5 separate regions of the Homo sapiens genome follow, and regions 2, 3, 4 and 5 are each linked to region 1. The links come from fine-mapping of genetic effects on gene expression. A gene starts in region 1. Each other region holds a variant in brackets. All regions are shown on one strand. Distances are from middle to middle. Region 1 holds the start of ZNF169 (zinc finger protein 169). Region 2 overlaps LOC107987100 (a long non-coding RNA gene). Region 3 overlaps ZNF169 (zinc finger protein 169). Region 4 overlaps LOC107987100 (a long non-coding RNA gene). Region 5 has its middle 17 kb from the start of MIRLET7A1HG.

Evidence for each region. PIP is the estimated chance that this variant, and not a neighbour inherited with it, causes the effect.
Region 2: its variant is fine-mapped to the expression of ZNF169 in cerebellar hemisphere (GTEx, PIP 0.99).
Region 3: its variant is fine-mapped to the expression of ZNF169 in whole blood (INTERVAL, PIP above 0.99).
Region 4: its variant is fine-mapped to the expression of ZNF169 in whole blood (TOPMed, PIP above 0.99).
Region 5: its variant is fine-mapped to the expression of ZNF169 in cerebellum (GTEx, PIP above 0.99).

What each region holds. Positions count from the first base shown.
Region 1 is chr9:94,257,174-94,262,278 of GRCh38, reverse strand. ZNF169 (zinc finger protein 169) reads right to left here and starts at 2,981. Exons shown (of 5, transcript NM_194320.4): 1 at 2,934-2,981. LINC02603 (long intergenic non-protein coding RNA 2603) reads left to right here and starts at 2,968. Exons shown (of 3, transcript NR_160773.1): 1 at 2,968-3,168. RefSeq lists enhancers at 1,524-2,169, 2,499-2,628, 2,170-2,816, 2,659-2,978, 2,817-3,462.
Region 2 is chr9:94,484,072-94,489,176 of GRCh38, reverse strand. LOC107987100 (a long non-coding RNA gene) reads left to right here. Exons shown (of 3, transcript XR_001746844.2): 2 at 1,357-1,525; 3 at 3,299-3,735. Among named protein-coding and RNA genes, the nearest start is that of PCAT7, 68 kb to the left of the region's middle. RefSeq lists an enhancer at 930-1,099. The variant A/G (reference allele first, on the strand shown) is at 2,229.
Region 3 is chr9:94,295,865-94,300,969 of GRCh38, reverse strand. ZNF169 (zinc finger protein 169) reads right to left here. Exons shown (of 5, transcript NM_194320.4): 5 at 1-1,155. Among named protein-coding and RNA genes, the nearest start is that of NUTM2F, 30 kb to the left of the region's middle. The variant C/T (reference allele first, on the strand shown) is at 2,118.
Region 4 is chr9:94,496,335-94,501,439 of GRCh38, reverse strand. The region is part of intron 1 of LOC107987100 (a long non-coding RNA gene); the gene reads left to right. It also overlaps the pseudogene LOC100421692. Among named protein-coding and RNA genes, the nearest start is that of PCAT7, 56 kb to the left of the region's middle. The variant C/T (reference allele first, on the strand shown) is at 2,150.
Region 5 is chr9:94,146,683-94,151,787 of GRCh38, reverse strand. It overlaps the pseudogene LOC107987099. Among named protein-coding and RNA genes, the nearest start is that of MIRLET7A1HG, 17 kb to the left of the region's middle. The variant C/T (reference allele first, on the strand shown) is at 2,694.

The sequences.
Region 1 (5,105 bases):
GACAACTGATACCCTCAAAGTCAGTCAGTTGCACAGTCCAGGTGGGTGCCAAGCACTGTGTCAGTGACCCATGAGGAGCCAGACAAGGTGCCTGTCCCCTCAAAGAACTATCTCAAAACCAGTGGGACAGTCAGACAGTTGAGATATACCATGCCAGCCGTGGAGTCCTCATATAATAAAGTGCTCTGAAACTAAAAAGGACAATGGAAGTAATTCTGCCAGAGAAAACTCAGGAAAGCTTTGTAGTGGACAAATATCTGTAGTGAGGCAACTTTTGAGACAAATACGGAAACAACACAGCCTGAATAAGTGATACTAAATAAATTCTGTTAATTTTCTTGGGTATGATCATTAATGCTGAAGTTGTTTTTCTTTAAATTCCTTATTTATGAGAGATGCATACTGAACACTGAAGTATTAGATTGGTGCAAAAGTAATTGTGGTTTTTGCCATTTACAGATGAAATGATATGACATTTGAATTTTGTTTTAAAGAACTACATCAGAGAAGTGTCATACACAAGTTTTACTTCGTTCTACATTCACAGCAGCTCCACGAGGTTAAGTACCTTGCTCAAAGTGACAGTGACAAAGGGAGAGACCTGGATTTGAACTCACTCTATGAAGGGTCACTCAAGACACCAAATCCTGGTATAGACCCCTAGTGAAAGAGACAATTTCCAAAGAGATCCACACTTGGGGTTGCAGATTTGGGGGAAAGAAGACAGGTGAGTCATTTGTAAGTGGTGAATCTGAGTGATGAATCCATGGAACTTCAAAACTACTTCTGGATATCTTTGCAATGTTTTCATACTGAGAAGTTAGAAATAAGAGTAGGTCTTGGCCGGGCGCAGTGGCTCACGCTTGTAATCCCAGCACTTTGGGAGGCCGAGGCCGGTGGATCAGGAGGTCAGGAGTTCAAGACCAGCCTGACCAACATGGTGAAACCCCGTCTCGAGCGGGGTGCGGTGGCTCACGCCTGAAATCCCAGCACTTTGGGAGGCCGAGGCGGGCGGATCACGAGGTCGGGAGATCGAGACCATCCTAGCCAACATGGTAAAAACACAAAAATTAGCCAGGTGTGGTAGCGCGTGCCTGTAGTCCCAGCTACTCGGGAGGCTGAGGCAGGAGAATACCTTGAACCCGGGAGGCGGAGTTTGCAGTGAGCCGAGATCGCGCCGCGCCACCCCACTGCACTCCAGCCTGGCGACAGAGCAAGACTCCCTCTCAAAACAAACAAACAAACAAACAAACAAAAAACAAACCCCGTCTCTACTAAAAATACAAAAAAAATTAGCCGGGCGTGGTGGCGGGCGCCTGTGGTACCAGCTACTCAGGAGCCTGAGGCAGAGAATTGCTTGAACCCGGGAGGCCGTGGTTGCAGTGAGCTGAGATCACTCCACTGCACTCCAGCCTGGGCGACAGAGTGAGACTTCATCTCAAAAAAAAAAAAAAAAAAAAAAAAAATGTAGGTTTGGATGCCTTCCACCCAACTTCTTCCCCCACCTCCAGGAATTCAAGGAGTCACTCAACAGCCCCCTGAGGCTTGAGAAAAATGTTCCTTGGCCCTATGGGCACCATTCTGCTTGTTGCAACCCATGCTCCCGGAAGGGTCCCCAAGTCCGAGGGAGCCACACAGCTGCAGAAGCCGACAATCTGGATACAAGCACGCCCCCATGCAACCCACAACCCAGGGATGTCTAACTCCAGGCAAGCCCTTCTCAACTCACCAACTTGGGTCCCCAGGCCCCAAGGCTACTGACCCGAGTCGCACGGCCCTAGCCGTCCCCCCCCCCACTATCAAGACCAAGTCTGGATGTCTACCCACAAACAATCCTCCCCCACAAACCCGGGTCCTAGTGGCCAAGCTGCACCATCACCACCACAGTGCACCAGCCATCCACAAGAGCCCTAATAACTGGACTGAGGTTGGGCACGGTGGCTCACGCCTGTAATCCCAGTACTTTGGGAGGCCGAGGCGGGGGGATTACTTGAGGTCAGGAGTTCGAGACCAGCCTTGCCAACATGGTGAAACCCCGTCTCTACTAAAACACAAAATATTAGCCGGGCGTGGTGGCGTGCGCCTGTAGTCCCAGCTACTCGGGAGCCTGAGGCAGGGGAATCACGCCACTGCACTCCAGCCTGGGCGACAAGAGCGAAACTCTGTCTCAAAAAAACAAAACAAAACAAAAACCAAAAAATTAGCCGGGCGTGGTGGCGGGTGCCTGTAATCCCAGCTGCTCGGGAGGCTGACGCGGGAGCATGGCTTGAACCCGGCGGCTGGGGTGGGGCGCGGAGATTGCAGTGAACCGAGATTGCGCCACTGCACTCCAGCCTGGGCGACAGAGAGAGACTCTGTTTCAAAAATAAATAAATAAATAAATAAAATTTAATAAATAAACAAATAAACAACCCGACTGATGCCCAAGCCGCGTGCCTCCCACTAATGGGGAAGTTTGCTCCAACCGAGGATATCATGTCCTCCAAAGGCACATTTGCTGGCCCAGAGACCTCCGAGGCGCGATGGTGGGGAGGGGATGGCGGGATACTAGTGGCAGGATGCTGTCTGGGTACCCCAGGCAGAGCCCACTCAGCGGCCCCCGAAGTACCGGGGACGCACCTGCGAAGTAGCTCGGGAAGTCGGTCCCAGGCCTGCACTGGCCCCTCCAGGTCAACATACTGGGCCCAAAGTCCCGCCAGAAGCACGCGACAACGCCAACGCCCCCTCCCCACCAGAGGACCTCCGCCAAGACCTCTCTCCGGGGTGGACCACGCACGCCCAGACCCCACAGCCGAAACTCAAAACACCAAGGAACATGTGGCCACGACATGGACTGCCCATGCCAGCTTTCCCGACCTTCCTTCCAGTGGAAGGCCCGCGAAAGCGGGGACCACCTCCGGGCTAGCTCACCAGAACTGTGAAAGGACACTCACCACGCACCAGGCGACGATGCCGGAACGCGGAAGTACGCGAGCCGGACTGCCCCTGGGCACGGAACTACACTACCCAGACTGCCACGGGGCGCGCAACTACCCTACCGTGGATGCCCTGGAGCGAGGGACTACAACATCCAGAATGCTGCGAGGGGCGGGACCGCAGCATCCAGGAGAAATTGTGAAAAATCAGAAAGTAAAATCTAACTTTCGGGTCTATGAGAAGGGTGGTCAGGTGAGCAGTAAGTCTTCTTTAACTTTTTATACGGTCCTTCTAATTTTTTTTTTTTTTAAAAAGATGTTACATGTCCTCCATCCTGCAAATTCACACCTGTGATTGTACACCCCTGAACTTTATCTACTTACTTATTTTTTGAGAAGGGGTCTTGCTCTGTCGGCCAGGCTGCAGTACAATGGTGTGATCATAGCTCACTGCAGCCTCAAACCCCTGGCCAAGCAATCCTCTCACCTCAACTTTCTGAGTAGCTGGGAATACAGGTGCATAGCACCACACCGGGCTAATTTTTTGTTTTGTTTTTTAGAATCTGGGTCTCGCGGCCGGGCGCGGTGGCTCACGCCTGTAATCCCAGCACTTTGGGAGGCTGAGGCGGGCGGATCAGAGGTCAGGAGTTCGAGAGCAGCCTGGCCAATGTGGTAAAATCCCGTCTCTACTAAAAATACAAAAATTACCTGGGCGTCGTGATGGGCGCCTGTAGTCCCGGCTACTCAGGAGGGTGAGGCAGGAGAATCACTTTGAACTCGGGAGGTGGAGGTTGCAGTGAGCCAAGATCGCACCACTGTACTCCAGCCTGGACAACAGAGTGAGATTCCTTCTCAAGGGGGAAAAAAAAAAAAAAGAATCTGGGTCTCGCTATGTTGACCAGGCTGGTCTGGAACTCCTGGCCTCAAGCAATTTTCCCACTTCAGGCTCCCAAAGTGCTGGGATTACAGGCGTGAGCCGTCCTTGTGGCCCAGGCTGCCTTTCGAGTTTATTTAGGGCCCTCTAGCCAGAGGTGGTGAGATTGGCAGTAACTCAAATTCCAACTGCTGGGATAGGTGATTCTCCTCGGGCTAAGGCTGGTGTAAATACTCCCTCCATGCGTGAGAATCAGCTGTGTTTGATCCAGTTTTGCTTTCTGGTATAACAGGGCAGCACTGAGTTCAATGCAATGTCTCATCATTGCTGTGCTTGCCGTCTCCCAAGAACATAGATTCTCTCTCCGCACCACAGAGCCACTGCTGGGGGATGGGTCAGGGGCATTGGTGATTCAAGACTGTCTTTCCTACCTTTTCAGTGCCTCTTTCAGTCATATGAAGTAAAAACCAGGTACTGCGAGTGCTTACCTGATTTTTGGTTCTTGTGAAGGTGCTTTTGTGTGTAAATAGTTGTTAACTTGTTTTTCTTACAAGGGGGAATGATCAGTGGAGCCTTCCATTCCACCATCTTGCTCCACCTCCCACCCCCATGTTTTAAATGACAGTGTGTATGAATGTACTTCTAAAAATGCCAAAAATACTGGGGTTTTTTTTCCTGTTATAAAGAAGAAGATTCTGAAGTTTTTTTTTTAATTCCAATTGATTACAAGAAGATAAGGAAAAACTAAACTTGAGGACATTTAACACTATAGCAATTAAAGTTATCTTACTAATGCAAAGATTGTTTATTAGATGTAACAGAATAATACGCTCAAAAACATACCAAAGTCTTTGCAAAATGAGTTATACTCTTTTTCTAAGAATTTGATAAAAAGTGGTATTTTTAAGTTACTTCCTATTTGCTTCTTCTCAAAATGAAGTAACAGGAACCAGATTTAGCCCTTCACCTTAATCAACATTTAAAAGGACAAAATATATGAAACATTTGAAGACATTTGACATCAGACAATGAAGAGCAGTGGAAATCATGGAGGTGAGCCTTTGAACTTCCCGCAGATGGAGAGAATTTCCAAGTCATAGCACAGAGAAGGGAAACTCAAGTGAAGCATGGAGTTCAACTTGAGGAGATGGAACTGGGAATCTGAGGAGGCATATGCATCTAGAGTTCACAGGGCAGAGTACAGAAAGGGAGAGAGAGCGCCAGAGATGTGCAGAGAGTCCTCTTCCTCAGGTATTAGTTAAGTGCTGACCAGCATGTACATGTGAGGAAACTCCTCAAAATTAGGGGTAAAAAAC
Region 2 (5,105 bases), 230 kb before region 1:
TTCAGGAGGAGGGCTGGTTGCCAGAGGCTTGGAACTGTGAGTCTCACCCACTGAGCTCCAGAAGAAATGGTGGCCGAAGATTGACTTAATCACCAATGGTCAATGATTTCAACAATCATGCCTGCATAACGAAGCCTTCATCAACACCCTCAACAACAGGGTTTGGAGAATGCCTGGGTTGTTGAACACAAGGGGCATATGAGGAGGGTAACATGCACAACAGAGAGCATGGAAGTTCTGTGCCCTTCCCCCCACATACCTTGCTCTGTGCATTTTTTTTTTTTTTTTTTTTTTTTTTTTTTTTGAGACAGGGTCTGGCTCTGTCTCCCAGGCTAGAGTGCTGTGGCACAATCGTGGCTCACTGCCACCTATGCCTCCCTAGCTCAAGCCATCCTCTCAGCCTTCTGAGTAGCTAGAACTACACGCACATGTCACTGCACCTGGCTAACGTTTAGAAAAATTTTTTTGCAGAGATGGGATTTCACCACGTTACCCAGGCTGGTCTTAATCTCCTGAGCTTAAGTGATGCTCCCGCCTCAGTCTCCCAAACTGCTGAGATTACAGGCATGAGCCACTGTGCCCAACATGTACATCTCTTTCACTGGCTGTTTCTAACATATATCCTTTACAGTGAACCAGTAATAGAACGTAAATTGGTGAGACACAGTGGCTCATGCCCATAATCCTAGCACTTTGGGAGGTTGAGGTGGGAGAATTATGTGAGCCCAGAAATTTGAGACCAGCCTGGGCAACATAACAAGACCCCATCTCTACAAAAAATAAAAGAACATAGCCAGATGTGGTGGAGCAGGCCTGTAGTCTCAGCTATTTGGGAGGGTGAGGCGGGAGGATCACTTAAGCCCAGGAGCTCGAGGCTACAGTGAGCTTTGATCACACCACTGCATTGCAGCCTGGCAACAGAGTGAGACCCTGTATCTGAGAATAAAAGAAAATAACTTGTTTTTTGAGTTCCGCAAGCTGTCCTAGCAAATGATTCCACCCACGAAGGGGGTTATGAGACCCTGTTTCCTAACTGGTTTGTCAAAAGTACATGTTAACAACCCAGGACTTGCAATTGGCATGTGGAGTGAGGGTAGACTCCTGGGACTGAGCCCCCATCCTGCGGGGTCTGCACTAACTCCGGGGAGTGTCAGGATGGAATTGTGGGATACCCAGTTGGTATCCAGATTGTCCGAAAATCGGTGTAGAAACTCCACATGCACATTTGGTTAGAGGTGTTTGACCATAACTACTATTCAAGAAAAAGATCTACTCATTAGAAATAAAAATCATAAAATTATACATTCTACAAAAACAAATCAACCTTATCTACCTCCCAATCCTACCAAACTACAGAATGTTAGAACAGAAGGTCTGACCATGGACTCAAGAGCTGACGTTAGGAATGTCAGCACCATCCTGCTCTCCAAGGACTCCTCATCTTCAACAGACTCCTCATCTTCAAAGGAAAGGGTGGAAACTGCAACTTGTGCCATGATCCCTGCGTGAGAAAAGTAGTAAGAAAGTGAGTGATAGAAATCCAGTGTCCTAAATTCACATCCAGAACTGTGAGAGTTTTTCACTAGCTGGCTAATTCACAGGTTTCTTGCATCAGAGGAAAAATACGACTCAGAAACTAGGAATTCCATTTGCCCAAAACTCTCATCAGATTAGAGAATCCATCCGCTAACTTTCTTATCTAGTATTATTTCCATGAGTTAGATCAATATCATTCCCAAAATAAATGCACATGGCACCCAGAATCTGTGCATTTCTCCCAAGTAAAAGAGGAGGCGGCCAGGAACGGTGGCTCATGCCTATAATCCCAGCACTTCAGAAGGCCAAAGTGGGCGGATCACCTGAGGTCAGGAGTTCAAGACCAGCCTGGCCAACATGGCGATACCCCATCTCTACTAAAAATAAAAAATTAGCCAGGTGTGGTGGCACATGCCTGTAGCCCCAGCTACTTGGGAGGCTGAGGCAGGAGAATCGCTTGAACCCGGGGGGGCTGAGGTTGCAGTGAGCTGAGATCGCACCACTACACTCCAGCCTGGGCAACAGAGTGAGACTCGGTCTCAAAAAAACAAAAACAAAAAAGAGGAGACAAGGCGCTGTACAACCCAGTGCCCAGTGATGGGCTACCACAAGTCAACACAGGAAAGAGGTGCCAAGCTCCCTTTCTCCCCTGCACAACCCGACACAAAAAAGAGTTGGTGCAGTGGAATGAG[A/G]CTGGATGGAGAGAAGTTCTTCTTTTTTGTTTTTTTGAGACCAAATCTCACTCTGTCACACAGGCTGGGGTGCAGTGTCTTTGTCTTGGCTCACTGCGACCTCTGCCTCCCGGGTTCAACCAGTTCCCTGCCTCAGGCTTCCAAGTAGCTGGGATTAGAGGTGCCTGCCACTGCACCCGGCTAATTTTTTTTTATTATTATTTTTAGTAGAGACTGGGTTTCACTATGTTGGACAGGCTGGTCTTGAACTCCTGACCTTGTGATCCACCTGCCTCGGCCTCCCAAAATGCTGTGATTACAAGCATGAGCCGCCGCGCCCAGCCAGGAAGTTCCTCTTCTTACTGAGAAAATAGATCACAGGGCATCAAGTAACATGTAAAAGTCTTTATAATAAGGAATATGATTTTTGGAAAAACTTTCCTAATATTTTGGTATTAGCAAAAACCCTCAGATTAATTTCAAACAGTATAAAAATACAGTATATAAACAAAATATTAACTGTCAGTAATGCTATAGAGAAATTGGAGGCTTTTTGGAATGTAAAATGGTACAGCCCACTGTGGGAAATGGTTTGGCAGCTCCTTAAAAATACTAAGCATAGAATTATTTGATCCACCAACACCCTTTAAGCGTATATACCCAAAAGAACTGAGAGCAGGGACTCAAACAGGTATTTGTACACCCGTTTAACAGCAGCATTATTCACAGTGGCCAACAGGTAGAACCAACCCTAATGCCCATCAGGGTTGATAAAGAATGGATGAATGGATGATGGATGAATGGTGAATGAAGAAAATGTAATATATACATATACAGAGTATTATTCAGCCATACAAAGAAAAATATTTGGCCAGGTTCAATGGCTTACACCTGTAATCCCAGCACTTTTCGAGGCTAAGGCGGGCAGGTCGCTGGAGCCCAGAATTTTGAGACCAGGCTGGATAACATGGCACATTTGGTTAGAAGTGTTTGATCATAACTACTATTCAAGAAAAAGATATACTCATTAGAAATAAAAATCATAAAATTATATGTTCTACAAAAACAAATCAATTTTATCTACCGCCCAGTCCTACCCGACCATAGAATGTTAGAACAGAAGGTCTCACCGTGGACTCAAGAGCTGACATGAAGAATGTCACCACCATCCTGCTCTCCAAGGACTCCTCATCTTCAATGGACTCCTCATCTTCAACGGACTCCTCATCTACAACGGGCAGGGTGGAAACTGCAACTTGTGCCATGATCCCTGCGCAAGAAAAGTAGTAAGAAATTGAGTGGTAGAAATCCAGTGTCCTAAACTCACATCCAGAGCTGTGAGAGTTTTTCACAGGCTGGCTAATTCAGAGTTTTCTTGCATCAGAGGAAAAGTAAGACTCGGAAACTTGGTATTCGATTTGCCCAAAACTCTCATTAGATAGAGAATCCATCCGCTAACTTTCTATCTAGTATTATTTCCATAAAGTTAGATCAATATCACTCCCAAAATAAATCCACGTGGCAACCAGAATCAGTGCATTTCTCCCAAGTACAAGAGGAGGTGGCCGAGCGTGGTGGTTCACGCCTGTAATCCCAGCACTTTTGGAGGCCGAGGAGGGTGCATCAGGAGGTCAGGAGATGGAGCCCATCCAGGCCAATATGGTGAAACCCCGGTGTCTACTAAAAATACAAAAAATAGCTGGGTGTGGTGGCGTGTGTCCCAGCTACTTGGGAGGCTGAGGTAGGAGAATTGCTTGAACCAGGGAGTCGGAGGTTGCACTGAGCCAAGATCGTGCCACTGCACTCCAGCCTGGTGACAGAGCAAAACTCCATCTCAAAAAAAAAAAAAAAAACCCAACAAATACAATAAAATATAAAATGTCTTTTTCTCTTAACCTTCTGCTGGAAAAACAAAACAAAACAAAACAAAAAAAACCTTCTGCTGGTACTTCAATTTCTGCTGGTACTGTTCCGTCATTGCCCTCTAAAGAATGATGGCTTCCTAAAAATAAAATAACCTATAATAAACCAATAAAAACTCACATTGAAAGAGAATCTAGGTAACGATGCAAACACTTTTAAGACATAGTAGGCCGGGCGTGGTGGCTCTTGCCTGTAAACCCAGCAGTTTGGGAGGCTGAGATGGGCCTATCACCAAGGTCAAGAGTTTGAGACTAGCCCGTGCCAACATGGTGAAACCTCATCTCTACTAAAATACAAAAAATTAGCCAGGCGTGGTGGCGGGCACCTGTAATCCCAGCAATTTGGGAGGCTGAAGTAGGAGAATCACTTGAACTTGAATCTATAAAGCAATAGATTAGTTAGGGAGTCACAAGGTAAACAGGCTCATCCTACTGGAGCAGAAGTTTTATTCACAAATACAAAAGAAATCTAAAATATCAGAGTGCCAGTCAGGATTAAGACCACGAGCTGCCCCCAGTATACATCCTCTGTCCTTAAAGATCTGAGCTACTAACAAGGAAAAGATTGAAAAACAGTGTCTTCAAGTATAAATAAAAATATATTACATTTCAGTAAGAATACATTGTTTAGGGGGAAGGGAAGCAGATGCTCATCTATTTTGTCCTATCTATTGATAACTAAATTCAGAAGCTGTACTAAAAGTAAAAGTTATAAATACATCTTCTCTTAATTTATTTTTTTTTGAGATGGAGTCTCGCTCTGTTGCCCAGTCTGGAGTGCAGTGGTGCAATCTCGGCTCACTGCAAGCTCCTCCTTCCAGGTTCACGCCATTCTCCTGCCTCAGCTTCCCGAGTAGCTGGGACTACAGGCGCCCGCCACCACGCCCAGCTAATTTTTTGTATTTTTAGTAGAGATGGGATTTCACCGTGGTCTCAATCTCCTGACTTCATGATCCACCCACCTCAGCCTCCCAAA
Region 3 (5,105 bases), 39 kb before region 1:
CCTTCTGACCAAAGCCACGCCCACAATCAGGGCACAGGTAGGGCTTCTCCCCTGTGTGTGTCCTCTGGTGTCCAATGAGGGTGACCTTCTGGCTAAAACCCCGCCCACACTGGGGGCACAGGTAAGGCTTCTCCCCTGTGTGTGTCCTCTGGTGCCTGATGAGAGTGACCTTTTGGCGAAAGCTGTGCCCACACTCAGCACAGACATAAGGCTTCTCTCCTGAGTGTGTGACCTGGTGACTAAGGAGGAGTGACTGCTGCCTGAAGCTACGCCCACACTCAAGGCACAGGAAGGGCCTCTCCCCTGTGTGTGAGCTCTGGTGCTGGAGGAGTGATGCCTTCTGGCAAAAGCCTCTCCCACACTCAGGACACACGAAGGGCTTCTCCTCCAAGTGCGTCCTCTGGTGTAGAAGGAGGGCTATCTTCTGGCGAAAGCCTCGCCCACACTCCTGACATACAAAGGGCCTCTCCCCGGAGTGAATCCTCTTGTGATTAGTGAGAGAGGATGTATACCTGAAGTGTCGCCCACATTCCCTGCACACATACGGCTTCTCCCCCGAGTGCTTCCTCTGGTGTATGGAGAGGGAGGCCTTCTGGCTAAACCGACGCCCACACTCAGGACACAGGTATGGCTTCTCCCCGGTGTGTGTCCTCTGGTGCTTGATAAGGTCTGATCTCTGGCAAAAGCCTCTCCCGCATTCAGGGCACACATGATGCTTCTGGTGGCTGAACAGGCTTGACTTTTTGCTAAGTCCCAGTCTATAGTTTCCACGTATGACTGCTCCAGATTCTGAAGTGTCTGCTCCCTTCAACATTGTGTCTGACCCCCCAAGACTCATCCTTTGGGCCAGGCGAAGGTCTGTTCCTCCTTCTCTGTTCCCTTCTACCCATTCTACTGGGTCACCTTGATGTGGGCTGAAGAATGTCCTAGAAATTCTGCTTGGCCTCTTTCTTAATGAGCTGTCGGGGCCTTCTGTCTCTCCACTTTCTCCTTTTTCACTAGAGCATCTTGGAGCTTCTAGTTGGAAGTCACCTCCTGCAGATGAGCTTGGGAAGATCTGTGTGGGATGGCCACTTAGCGCATATTGTCTGAGGAGCTGCGAGCTAGAAAAGGCCACCAGGTGGGGAAAACTTGGCTGGAATTCTGTTCTAGGCTCTGCTAGAGAGAAAGTCTTGGTCAGAATCACCACAGGTGACCATGGATTGTAATACCTGCCCAGCAGTTTTCTTCAGATGTTCACAACAAAGACTTATCTTCCAACCCACAAGGGCACATTACATGCTCTATTGCAGCACAGAAAACCCACACTACAAACTAGTCCTATCAGCCAAACTAAAAGGTTCAAAAAAGCATCACAGGCAGCTTCAGCTCTATAAATTGCTGCAAGTAGAGTTACACATTTATCTTCCTTTCTTGGGCGCCGCTCCCTTGCTTTTGCTCCAGCTCAAGCCTATTAAACCTTGCCTGAGAAACATTTGTTCGGCCTGCTGTTTATGCAAGAGCCAAGAACTTGGTGTCTGAGCTGCAGTTAAGAAACAGACTGATTATGATCTTGAAGGTGCTATAAATAAGATCTTAGCATCTGAAGGGGAGCCATGCTTTGGGCTTCCTTGACTGTGGTGACTCAAGTAAGGGGCACCCACGAATCAGATAAGCTGTAGCAAGAGATACTGGCTCCTGTGTGGAATAGGCTTTAGGCCAGGGAGCTTCCATATCAGCCTGATGTGAGTTGTCTCCTGAACTGTATGGACACCCTTAAGTCCTCTTGAAGAAGAGGAATCCCTGATGCTGCCCTCCGGGCAAATGAAGGTGCTGTCCTCTAGCCTCTGGGAAGACTGCAGCCAAGTATATTCCCCGAATAGCATTGCACAACACTACGTACACTGTTTTGCTCAATAATCCAGGATTTTTAAAAAAATCTGGTGAATTAAGGAGAAGCTCAGCGTTTGAAAGTTAATAATAGATGACTTCTCATTAGCATAAAGATGTTTCAGGGATTATACATATTTCGGCTTAAGCATATTCTTATCCATGCACAAAAACTGTTAAAACTATACAAATTGACTTTTTCAAAAAATTTTGTTTCTAGGTTTAAATAGGCTGCCAATTGGAGATAA[C/T]ACTAATTCCCATGATGGTATAAATTAAAGGCTCTGGAAATTGGCAGTGCTTTCAGCTTCCGTAAGTTGATACCGTAACTCCTAGGTAATTATTGACTAAGTTCTTTTTTTTTTTTTTTTTTTTGAGACAGAGTCTCGCTCTGTTGCCCAGGCTGGAGTGCAGTGGCGTGATCTTGGCTGACTGCAACCTCTGGTTCAAGCAATTCTCCTGTCTCAGCCTCCTGAGCAGCTGGGATTACAGGCGTGCACCACCATGCCCGGCTAAGTTTTGTATTTTTAGTAGAGATCGGGTTTCACCATGTTGGCCAGGCTGGTCTTGAACTCCTGACCTTAGGTGAGAGACGGGGTTTCACCATGTTGGCCAGGCTGGTCTCGAACTCCTGACCTTAGGTGATCCGCCTGCCTCGGCCTCCCAAAGTGCTGGGGTTATAGGCATGAGCCACTGCGCTCGGCAGGACTAAGTTCTTATGAGTCATTATGGGACAGCCCTCAATAGAGAAGTCTGCTTTCATTATCTCTGAAATTGTTTGCTGTAGTGAATAAGCAAAGCATTTGGTAAGAGAAAAATAAGGCATTTTCTTATTCATGGCTAGTTTATCTTTTTTATCTTACTTTTGTTTAAAGACTCCTGCTTTTTAACTCAGATTAGAAATTGAGTCTCCTTGAACAAATTTTTTTTTTTTTTTTTAAAGGAGTCTCGCACTGTCGCCTAGGCTGGAGTACAGTGGCACTATCTCAGCCCACTGCAACCTCCACCTCCTGGGTTCAAGCAATTCTCCCACCTCAGCCTCCTGAGTAGCTGGGATTACAGGCGCACCTACTACGCCTGGCTAATTTTTTGTATTTTTAGTAGTGACAGGGTCTCACCATGTTGGCCAGGCTGGTCTCAAACTCCTGACCTCAAGTGATTCGCCTGCCTTGGCCTCCCAAAGTGCTGGGATTACAGGCGTGAGCCACCGCGCCCAGCCCCTGGAACAAATTTTTAAGAGCATTGATCAGAAATGTACCTGGCAAGTAGCAACCCATAGCAAGAAACTGAATCAGGGTTTCAAGTGCCCTATCAGAACAGAAGTGAACAATTTAATGGAATTAAACTACTTAACAGAAGACCCTTGGTTCAAGGCAGACGATTATAAATACAATACTGATTTATATGTTATTCTATTTGTTAACTATTTTTAATCACAAAATACGTATTTCTTATTTTTGACCATACTATTCCTAAGAAAAACTCTTTGTATCATTGATTAGAGTCAGTAAGATCATATCTGCAAGAGGGAACTTCAGCAGCTTTAGGGATTGCCATTCACATTCCATCTGGAATACAGAGAAGGTCCTTCATATTAAAATATTCCAGTGGAAAAAGATGTGAGTTTTGCAAGATTACAGCATACAAAATCACTATACATAAATCCATTTTATTTCTACATACCATCAATAAACAACTGAAAATTGACACTTAAAAATAGCATCAAAATATGAAATACTTAGGGGCAAATCTGACAAGAGATATGTAAGGCCTGTATACCAGAAATGACAAAACAATGCCGACAAAAATGAAAGAAGTCTTATGTAAATGGAGAGCTATACTGTGTTCACGTACTGTAAGACACAGTATTATTTATGTGTAAGTTCTCCACAAATTGATACAGATTCAACTCGATCCCAATCAAAATCTCAGCAGGCATTTTTGTTAAAAACTGACAAGCTGATTCTAAAATTCATATGAAAAAACAAAGAATAACGAAAAGAACTTGCAAAAAAAAGCAAAGATGGAGGATTTTTTATTTTATTTTATTTTATTTTGAGATGGAGTCTCGCACTGTTGCCTGGGCTGGAGTGCAATAGTGTGATCTCGGCTCACTGCAACCTCCGCCTCCCGAGTTCACGCGATCCTCCTGCCTCAGCCTCCCGAGTAGCTGTGATTACAGGTGCGCACCACCACACTCGGCTAGTTTTTTTTGTATTTTTAGTAGAGATGGGGTTTCACTATGTTGGCCAGACTAGTCTCGAACTCCTGACCTTGTGATCCGCCTGCCTAAGCTTCCCAAAGAAGATGGAGGATTTACAGTGAGTTCAAGACCTAATAAAGCTACAGTAATCAAAACTGTGGTATTGGCATAGAGACACTAACAGAGGAGTAGAAAAAACATAGAGTCCAGGTATAGACCTATCACATATGGTCAACTGATCTTCCACAAAGATACATAGGAAATTCAGTTAAAAAAGGGTAGTGTTTTCAATAAATGGTGCTGGAAAAATTGGATATTTGTATGCCCTTCCTCCCCTAAAAAAGTACATAAATTCAGATCTTTTATCAAGTATATTTACTCAAAATAGGCTTATAGACCTAAATGTAATTAAAAATTGTAAAATTACTAAAAGAAAAAAATGAGAATCTTTTTGACCTTACTTTAGACTAAAATTTCTTAAATACACTACCAAAACTGCAATTCATAAGAGAAAAGATTGAAAACTGGACTTCATCCAAATTAAAATTTCTCTTTGAAAGGCACTATTAAGATTATAGAAAGTAAACCACAGAAAAAATGTTTGTAAATCATATATCTGATAATGGACTTCTACATAGAATATGTGAAGAACTCTCAAACTCAATAATACAAAAATAAGAAACCACATTTTTAAATGGGCAAAAGATGTGAAAACGTACTTCACTAAAGAAGATATAAGATAGCAAATAAGCACATGAAGATACTCAACATCATCAGTCATTAAGAAAATGTTAAAACCACGGTAAGATGCCACTCACTACACAGCTATAAGAATGTCTGAAATTAATAACCAAGCCAAGTTTTGACAAATATGGAACACCTGGAGCTCTCATACACTGCTGTGGGAATGTGAAATGGTGCGGCCACTTTGGAAAGCAGTTTGTGAGTTTCTTCAAAAGTTGAATATATATTGTATCCATCATCATACAACCCAGCCATTCCAGTCCCAGGTATTTATTCAACAGAAATGAAAGCA
Region 4 (5,105 bases), 240 kb before region 1:
ACTGTGAAACTGATTATCCATTTAGAAAAAAAAAAGGTTAAATCCCTATTTCACCACATACAAAAATTCCAGAAGGATATAAGCAAAAATGACAGAGTAAAAATCTCTCAAAATTCTCTCCTATCAAAGCAACGAGAAAGCTACCCAAATTGGTGAAATCAACTTTTTAAACTTTGGAAATTAATCAAAGATTTACAGCAATGCAGAAAGCATTTATTCATGAAAAATGGATGAATCTCAGCAGAAACAGGAACTTTGTGGTGCTTTTCCATGCCCTCTCTCCAGCTTTCAGGCAGCCTTGCAAACCGACAGCCCACAATCATGGTGAAAACCAGTAGCCTGACAGCCACTGTAGCAGGCAGAACAGGGTTAATTGGAAAACTGAATTTAAAAACATGATCTAACTATGCATCTACAAGAGACATAGTTTAGACTAAAGAACACAAATAGGTGGAAAGTAAAAGGATAAAAAGATATACTATGTAGGCCAGGTGCAGTGGCTCACACCTGTAATCCCAGCACTTTGGCAGGCAGAGGTGGGCAGATCACCTGAGGTCAGGAGAATGAGACCAGTCTGGCCAACATGGTGAAACCTCGTCTCTACTAAAAATACAAAAATTAGCCAGGCGTGGTGGCACATGCCTGTAATTCCAGCTACTTGGGAAGCTGAGGCAGGAGAATCACCTTAACCTGGGAAGTGGAGGTTGCAGTGAGCTGAGACTGCACCACTACACTCCAGCCTAGGCAACAGAGACTCCATCTCAAAAAATAATAATAAAATAAAAATAAAAATAAAAAATTAGACGAGCATAGTGGCACACTTTTGTAGTCCCAGCTACTCAGGAGGCTGAGGTAGGAGGATTACCTGAGCCTGGGAAGCTCAACACTGCAGTGAGCCATGATTATGCCACTGCACTGTAACCTGGGCAACAGAGTGAGATCCTGTCCCCCCCAAAAAAAGTGTAAATCCAGCATAAAGATATAACAATTATAAACATATATGCACCCTACAAAAGAATCCCAAAATACATAAATCAAAAAAGTTTCAAATGGATCGAACCTACAAATGTTGAGAAGCCGAATAATAATTTATTAGAATAAATGTAAGAGAATATTTTTATAATCTTTTGAGGCCTTAAGCAACAAAGAAAAAAACATCTGGGTACAGTGGCACATGACCATAGTCCCAGCTGCTTGAAAGACTGAGGCAGGAAGCTTGCCTGAGCCCAGGAGTTCAAGACCAGCCTGGGCAATATAGTGAGACTCCATCTCAAAAAAAAAAAAAAAAAAAAAAAAGATAGATGAATTTAGTGATAAAAAACTTAAGAATTTTTCTATACGTGGCAAAAGCATGATAAATGAAGTAAAACGATAAACAACTAGGAGAAATATTTATAATAAACATGAAAAGGGGTATTATCTCTAACTTATAAAGAACTCCTACAATGTGATTAGAAAGGGAAAATTAACCTAAAAGACAGGACAAGGAAAATAAATAGGCAGTGTACAAAGAGAAAATGCAAATGGCTAAAACCTCACTATAGTCCTGGAAATACAACAATGAGATACCATCTTTCATCCATCAAATTGGGCTTAAAAAATAAAAAAGATCTATAATATCCAATACTGATAAACTGGTAACGAGCATTCATACACGCCTGGTAGGAATCTGCTTTGCTATACCTTTTTTTAAAAAAAATGTAGTATGGCAGTTTCTATTAAAATTTATAGTGTAAACAGATTTTAAATCAGCAATCCCAGTTTGGGAAATCTATCCTGCATAAATAAAAGCACTACTACAAAAGTAACATATTTATCTATTACAGAAAATTATGATGGATATCAATTTTTATTTTTCCCTGTAACCTAAATCATTTTTTTCTGGCTTATTCCCTAGACTGCTTCTGCCATTTTCCCTATAAATCTCTCATTCTCAGCAAAAGAACAGAAAACATAAAGAGAGTTTTCTTCTCCAATATTGTTTTATAAAAATCTCAAACATACAAAACATTAAAAGAATTGTTTAATAAACACTCTTACAATCAGTAACCAGCTCACCTAGATTCTGTAATTAACATTTTGTTATATTTGTTATCACGTATCTGTTCATCTACCCATGCCTTAAAGAGGTTGTTTTTAATTCCTTTAT[C/T]TGTTTCCATGGCAAGGCAATGTTTAAACATAAATAGTGAACAAAGCCAGCCGGAAAATAAAGTTTTTACCTTATTAATCACTCCAGTCTCTCTTTACCATTCATACTTCAGATTGTTTCCCCAAATACACAGCTTAAAGCCAAATCCAATTCTTTTATCTGTAACAACTGAATTTATTACTCTATTTAATCTTCACTTTTACTGAAAGGTTTCTCTTTTTTTTCTCTTGAGACAGTCTTGCTCTGTCACCCAGGCTAAACTGCAGGTGCGTGATCACAGCTCACTGCATTCTCAACCTCCTGAGCTCAACTGATCCTTTGACCTCAGCACCCTGAATAGCTGGGACTACAGGCACATGCAACCATGCTCGGCTAATTTTTCTATTTTTTTTTTTTTGTAGAAATAGGGTTTTGCCACATTGCTGGGCTGGTCTTGAACTCACGGGCTCAAGCCATCAGCCCACCTCAGCCTCTCAAAGTGCTAGGATTACAGGCACGAGCCATTGTGCCTGGCCAGAAGGTTTGATGCTTTTGAGGAATATGCTCAATGCAAGAAAGCACTGCAAATTATCAGCTTAAGAATGGTTCTTGTGTATGGGTATCTCTCTCCTCCTTACTTACATCGTTATGTAAATATTGCCTATCTCACAAGTTATGTTTTCATAAAATGGCCTCTTATACCCTATTTTGTTTTATTATCTACAATTTCGATGGGTTTGCCATAAAGACGTTATTATTTATGGCATCTAATATGCTATGATTCTCAGATTCTAGTCTTGGCACCCTTCTAATAGAGGAGAACAAGAACAGAAATGAAAAATACCTATAATTGGCCAGGCGCGGTGGCTCATGCCTGTAATCCCAGCACTTTGGGAGGCCGAGGCGGGCGGATCACGAGGTCAGAAGATCGAGACCATCCTGGCTAACACGGTGAAACCCTGTCTACTAAAAATACAAAAAATAAGCCAGGCATGGTGGTGGGCACCTGTGGTCCCAGCTACTCGGGAGGCTGAGGCAGGGGAATGGCGTGAACTTGGGAGGCGGAGCTTGCAGTGAGCCAAGATCACGCCACTGCACTCCATCCAGCCTGGGCAACAGAGCGAGACTCCGTCTCAAAAAAAAAAAAAAAAAAAAAAAAACCTAAAATTAAAAAGTGGGAGGCCATCTGCAAATCTTGAAGTGAGAGGATTTCCATCTTCATCATGGCAAAATGCAAACAGCCCAGCAGAGAAACCCTGTAAGAAAAAGTTCAAAATGTCTTAATGTGAAAAATATCAACGCTGATTACAGGCCTGTGATCAAAAGAGAGCACTGATACCAACTGGGACATAAAAGCACCACGCCAATGCTTCTATAGGAACTTCTCACACATTGGAATCGAACAATTAAGTGTTCCATATTTATAAATTTTAAATTCTAATTACTTGAGGTAAATATTTCTAATGAGAAATTTTCTAAAATACAGTATTTTCAATTTATATACAGTATAAATACTATAAACATCTATTACTGTGCTATAATTATATTTCCAGGCACCATTAAGAGTTTTAAAACCATGAAGCGCACCAGCTGTTGTGTTTTTAATTCCTGTCTTCTGTGTGTGTGTGTGTGTGTGTGTGTGTGTGTGTTTGTGTACTTTATGAAATGGTTCTGAAAGTCTGTCTGCGTTTTAAAGTTATTTTGGCCTTCTTATATATATAGCAGAATCCTCCCAAAGTGCTGGGATTACAGGGGAGAGCCACCACTCCCGGCCTTTCTTCCTTTTTTGAGAATGTTTCAGGTATCACTTCTGAACAAGAGCTGTAAAGATAAAAGCAGCACACTGAGATGCATGGCCAAGACTGACATTTGCTTACAATAGATAAACTTAATTCAAAATGTCTGTGAAGACAAGCATTTGTATGTGCTCAAATATACATGTAAAAAATTATTTAGCTGATCATTTCCTTTCCTTTAATTTGAGAAAGTGGTAAGTCATCACTACTTTCTCCCTATAAGGATTTTCACATGGTTATCAGAAGCGGCAACAGAAGGGCCGGGCACAGTGGCTCATGCCTGTAATCCTAGCACTTCGGGAGGCTGAGGTGGAGGATCACTTGAGCCCAGGAGTTCAAGAACAGTCTGGGCAACATGGCAAGACCCCATCTGTACTAAAAATACAAAAATTAGTGGGGTGTGGTGGTGCGTGCCTGTGGTCCCAGCTACTCTGGAGGCTGAGGTGGGAGGATTGCTTGAGCCCAAAAGGTTGCAGCAGCAGGGAGCTGGACTCAGTGGCTCACCCCTCTAATCTCAACACTTTGGGAGGATCACTTGAGTCCAGGAGTTTGAGACCAGCCTGGGCAACACAGCGAGACCATGTCTCTACCACACACACAAAAAAAAAAAAAAAAAAAAAAAAAAAAAAATTAGCCGAGTGTAGTGGCACATGTCTGCAGTCCCGGCTACTTGGGAGGCTCAGGTGGGATCACTGGAGCCCAGGAGGTTGAGGCTGCAGTAAGCCATGGTAATGCCTTAAAAAACAAACAAACAGCAGCAGCAGCGCAGGCTCTGCCATATCTACATACTTTCATAGGCCTTTCAGTATCATTAATTCTTAAATCTTAGAATTTTAAGGGAGGAAAAAGCTTTATAAATCTTCTTGTTTGATACAAGGTCTGCCTTTATCACCAGGCTGGAGTGCAGCAGCACAATCTTAGCTCATTGCAGCCTTGACTCAAGCCATGCTCCCACCTCAGCCTCCCAGCAGCTGGGACCACAGGTGCACACCACCATGCGCCACTAATTTGTGTATTTTTATTGAACATGAATCTAGGAATCCATATCATCTTAAAATGGAATATATGTATAAAAACGAGAACCTAATAAGCAGAAAATCAAGGCATGAAGGAAAGAAAGTAATGGTAGAATTTATCAGGGCATGAATAATCTGTTTCACTGTGGACAGCATCCCAGTAAA
Region 5 (5,105 bases), 110 kb after region 1:
CACCAGCCATTCAGGAGGCAACAGAAGGAATAGCCGGTTCGCCAGTCTCATCCTACCGCACCCTCTCTCCGAGATGACTGAGGGTGGCTGGAGTCTCATAAATCTCATAAATCACTGTACCTGTTTGAGCCCTTCTACATGTGACCCCTTCAACCCCACTGTGGGCTGCAGGGCTGAATACTGCATGTGTGTGTGTGCGCGCACACACACATGCACCCCCCCTACACATGCACCCCCTCACCCCCCGCACACACACACACATTCGTCCCTGGGCTCCACGTTACAAATCAAGAATAAAGTTAGCACTGGGCTGTGGATTTGGAAAGTAATCCTCTACTATACTCCTGAGTAAACATCTGGTTTCAACTATGTAGGCTTACCGAGTAATTTGACAGATTGGGCAGCTAGGCAAAAAGAAAATTTTAAAAAGTATAATTTAATACCAGATTCATGATTTTTCCACGCTTTTCACACATCTGAGCGAGCTGGTTTTGCTCCCCGGTGTGAAGTGTCTCAAGTACTTCCTTAAGCTTTTCCAGGATATTTTCAGCCAGGATGTTTCCCTGCAATCCATTTGTTCCCCTGCCCTTCAAATAAATGTCCTAAAACACAGAGATCACATGAGTTTGTGGCAAATTCCTGAGGCCAAAGGCCACCTCATCTTTGGGGGAGGTTGAAATATGTCCCTTCCTGGTCACTAAAACACCATCTGGGAGGAGGAAAGAACTCACATTCCACCCTGGGGAAGGCTGACAAGACCTGGAGAGGGAAGTGACTGTGAGAACCCTGCACGATGACACTTCCAGGCTGGCCCTGCTGTGGGCCTGTTACCAGTATCTGTTGTGAAAGTCACTACAAACTCCATCAGGTGAAACTGGAATCTGCGTTCCTTCAGTCCATTGAGTTTTGGTTAGGACCTACTCTGTCTTCCACAGAAACTCAGTCCAGTGGTAAGAAATGCTCACAGTCAATGACTGCACAGTTGGATATGCCAGTGGAGTGCAGAGAACGAAGGACCAGGTCTCACTGTGTCTTTTATTTTCTGTATTTTGATGTTTTGGCACCTGGGGCCTGCCCTCCCAGGGTTAGCCAACTCCTAGACAGAGTAAAGGATCTCACCTGGGACTGTGCTTTTCAGATGCAAACCAACCAACCCAGATCCCACACCCCCAACCATCCAACCTTCTCACACGCAGGCCACTGTCCATCTGCCCTAATTACCAGAGAGCAAGGCACAGCTCCTATGCCTCAGAGCCCACTGAAATGATTCACACTAGCCAGTCTTTAGCCTGCTTACCCTCCCCTCCCCATTTCTTCCTGTGGAAACCACAGCAAAGGCCCTGGACCACAGTTCCCTGCCATTCCTTTTGCTTCCTGATCAACCCTGGGGCTTCCCCATGTGGCCCTGCGTGGTGGGGGGCTCCCTCCTCTTGGGAACTCTGAGTAACAAACTACCTTTTCAATGGCAATCATCTCCTGATCTTTTGGCCCCAACAGAACCAGTGCAGGGAAGTGATTTCTTTTCCCTGGTGCCTCGGAAATGAGAAAAGAACTTGTCTTGAAAAGAGGTGGACCTGGGTTTGAATTCCAGCATAACACTCACTACAGAATGCTGCTGGTGTATAAATCTTTTCCAGGATTCAGCAGAATGAATACTCCAGGGAAGATGAATGGGCCTGCGCCTGGGATCTGGGCCTTTTTTCTTTTCAAAGAAAACTGAAGAGCACTGAAAATGTCCCAGAGGGTCTGCCTTCAGAGCTGGGCACACCAGTCCTCTTCCTCCCTCCCTTCTCAAATCTCTGCCTCTACTCAATCAGTCCAAAGCTCTTTCCCGCCCTTCTAGGCCGCAGGTGCAGCCAGTATCCCAGCCAGCACTGTCCCTCTGCTCAATCCTCTGTGTTCTGTCAGGGTGAGGACGCACAGCTACTTCTGCTCAACCCTCTTGGGACCGCACCTGCATGACCTGCCCAACCCCCAAATCCAGGCTCAACAAAATTTCTGCGAAGACCTCCAGTGTACTTCCTGTGCCCTTTGCAGGTTCCTTATGGGCTCCCGGAGTCTGAGGAGCCTGTGTGTCTGTCACCTGGGAGCAGGAAAGCCAGAGAGCAGGGCAGGGGACAAGGACCGCCTCCCTTACAAAGTGGAGCTTCAGAGGGTGCCATTATCTCTAGTTGCTTGGTGCATTAACTTAAAATCACAATAGAGAAATTAAGGTTGCCATGGACCTGCTCAGGGAGGGAAGATGAGGAAGGAGCTGTGCACGAGAAGCTCAGTCGTCGGAGAGGCAGCAAATGCCAGTAGCGTCTAAAACCAGTGGGCGAAGAATGGTGAGATAAACACATACTCAGAGCTATGGTGGTGACTGCAGGAAGAATGAGGTAGAAAAAGTTAGGAGAGATTGCCTCTGGAGAGTGGGACTAGGGGTGGGATGGCAGCATTGCTTTTCATTATAAACTCTTTTCTACACTATTTCTTTGATATGATTTAAAAATAAACATACAAATAAGTGAAAATTCCAGGTTGACAAATAAAATGATCCATCCAAATGTGTGGTGCTTCTGAGCTGTTGCCCCTGTCTCTGCAGTCACCTCATGGCACCCCTCCCCCAAAAGCCAGGTGATGACCGCCTGCCTCTCTCCCTGCCCTCCAGCCCCTCAGGATTCCTCTGCCTGCAACCTATTCCTTCTAGATTT[C/T]CTTCCTTCCTTCCACAAATATCCAAAGGGTCTGGGGCAACACCAGTCATGATTCCTACAGTCCAGCTGGCGAAATGTTACACAAAGAATTTCCATGAGAGCATGTGACATTGTGCTTTCAGAAGTCAACGTTATGATGACCCTTTCCAGGTTAAAATATGTCACTAGCTCCCCTCTGCTTACAGGATAAAATGCAAAGCCCTTTGCTTGATGTGTAGGGCCTCCTGGAATATGTCCTACTTACCCTTCGGGTGGGTACCCTAAAGCCCCAGGTGTCTCCCACAGCACCTTATGCTCAAGCCTCCGTGATCTCTGGGCCAGGCCCTTAAGCACCTCCTTTCTTAGGCTCTCTTTCTCGGGCCTTGCTATCTGCCACTGTCTCTTCCTAGATTGCCCTCTCCATCAGCATCAGTCCTACCGTAGATTCTATGCAGCAGTGCCTCCCCTGTGGCCTTCCTGTCCCCTGCGGTGCATTGCAGACCTGCACTGTGGGGTCTCCCATTATATGTGTGGTCTATCTCTCCTTAAAGGGTGAAATCTGAACCCTCATCAGCTCTGCTTCTCTGGTCTTCCACCACAGTGACAAGGCACCTAGCAAGTGCTAATAAATGGCCCTACCTACCCCAGCGCATACTGAACAAGCTGTTCTGTAAGAAAGTTCTCTCCAACCTTAGGCCACAATGTACATCCTCCTGTAGCTCCTCCCTGTGGGTCCTGATGGATCTTCTAAGCCTAAAGGAAAAGCCTGTCCTCCCCTGCCGATGCCCTCTCACAACCCTTCAGAGATGTGGGTCTGCCTTGCTGGTCTTCATTTTGGGGCCCAAAGTCCCCAGTTTTCTCATGGGCTAGAGTTCGAAGAGTGCAGACCAGAAAGAAGTCTGCTCCCTCGTGGAGTCAAAGGGCCCTGATTTTCCTCTTACTTTCCTACACACTGGACAACAGAACCATCCCTGGACCTGGGTGCAATTCTGGTAAACCAAGATCAGCTCCAGGCACTGTTTGCAGAAGTTGTGGGAACAGGACAGCAGCAGTGCAGGCAACGTAAGCAGCTCCATGCACACGGGCAGGACAGTGTTGCACCCAGCGGCTCCATGGCTCTCAGGCTGCCGCCCCGGCCAGATGCTAGAACAGGCCTGAAACTGCTCTGGGAGCCACGTCACAATAGCGCCATGGCCAGGCCCGGCTTTCCTCCAGGGGATGAAGCAAGGAAGCTCCTTGAGTGCTTCGGGGGTGCCAGGACGTGTCGGGGAGCCAGGCGGCCAAATCCAGCTGCAGCTCCTTTCTTTGCAGCTCGTGTGCCAAGATGGTTCTTAGATTTTTTAGACTCTTTTTTTTTTTTGAGACGGAGTTTCATTCTTGTTGTCCAGGCTGGGGTGCAATGGCGTGATCTCGGCTCACAGCAACCTCTGCCTCCTGGGTTCAAGCAATTCTTCTGCCTCAGCCTCCCGAGTATCTGGGATTACAGGCATGTGCCACCATGCCCGGCTAATTTTGTATTTTTAGGAGAGACGAGGCTTCGCCATGTTGGTCAGGCTGGTCTTGAACTCCTGACCTCAGGTGATCTGCCCACCTCGGCCTCCCAAAGTGCTGGGATTACAGGCATGAGCCACCGTGCCTGGCCATTTTTTAGGCATTATATAAAACAAAAAGCGAAAAACAAAACAACAAAAACAAAGATATGCAACAGAGTCCACGCATGACCTGCAAAGTCTTAAGTATTTACTTTCTGGCTCTTTACTGAAAGAGTCTGTGGTCCTGTGTAATTGAGAAGATGAACCTACTAAAATCCAGCTACTCCTAGGCACAGCATCCTGGCCTCAGGTTAGCAGGGAGGAGTTGGGGGATAGGGCCACCACCCCACCACAGCCGGACCATCTGAGGCAGGTAGCCCCTGGCCTCTCCTGTTCCTTCTTCATTCACGTGTGTTGAACGAGGCCATCTCTCAGCCCTTCCTCTCTGATCCTGGGCATCGCCAGTCTGTGGACTCTGACTTGGCCTTTCCCAGCCCTCAGTGCCTGTCTCGTCTGCCTGCCTGGGGGTTCCTGGAGGATCAGCCAGTCCAAACAAGGGGCACTAGTTGAGCACCCATGTTGGGCCGGCATTGTCATGTGTTATCTCTTATTTCATCTCCACAGCCCTAAGAGGCTCAAGAAATTAGCTTTCATTAAGTCAGAGAAACTGAGGCACAGAGAGGTAGGATAACCTTTCCAAGGCTGCAATGTGTCATGTTCCATATGACTCTTTCTCTTTTCCTGGCAAGCTATGTTGCCTCACAGATGAGGTTGTCCTATAGATGTGAAGGTTCATGGTAAAATGTATGGGTGTGGCTGGGCGCGGCGGCTCATGCCTGTAATCCTAGCACTTTGGGAGGCCTAGGAGGGTGGATCACCTGAGGTCAGGAGTTCGGGACCA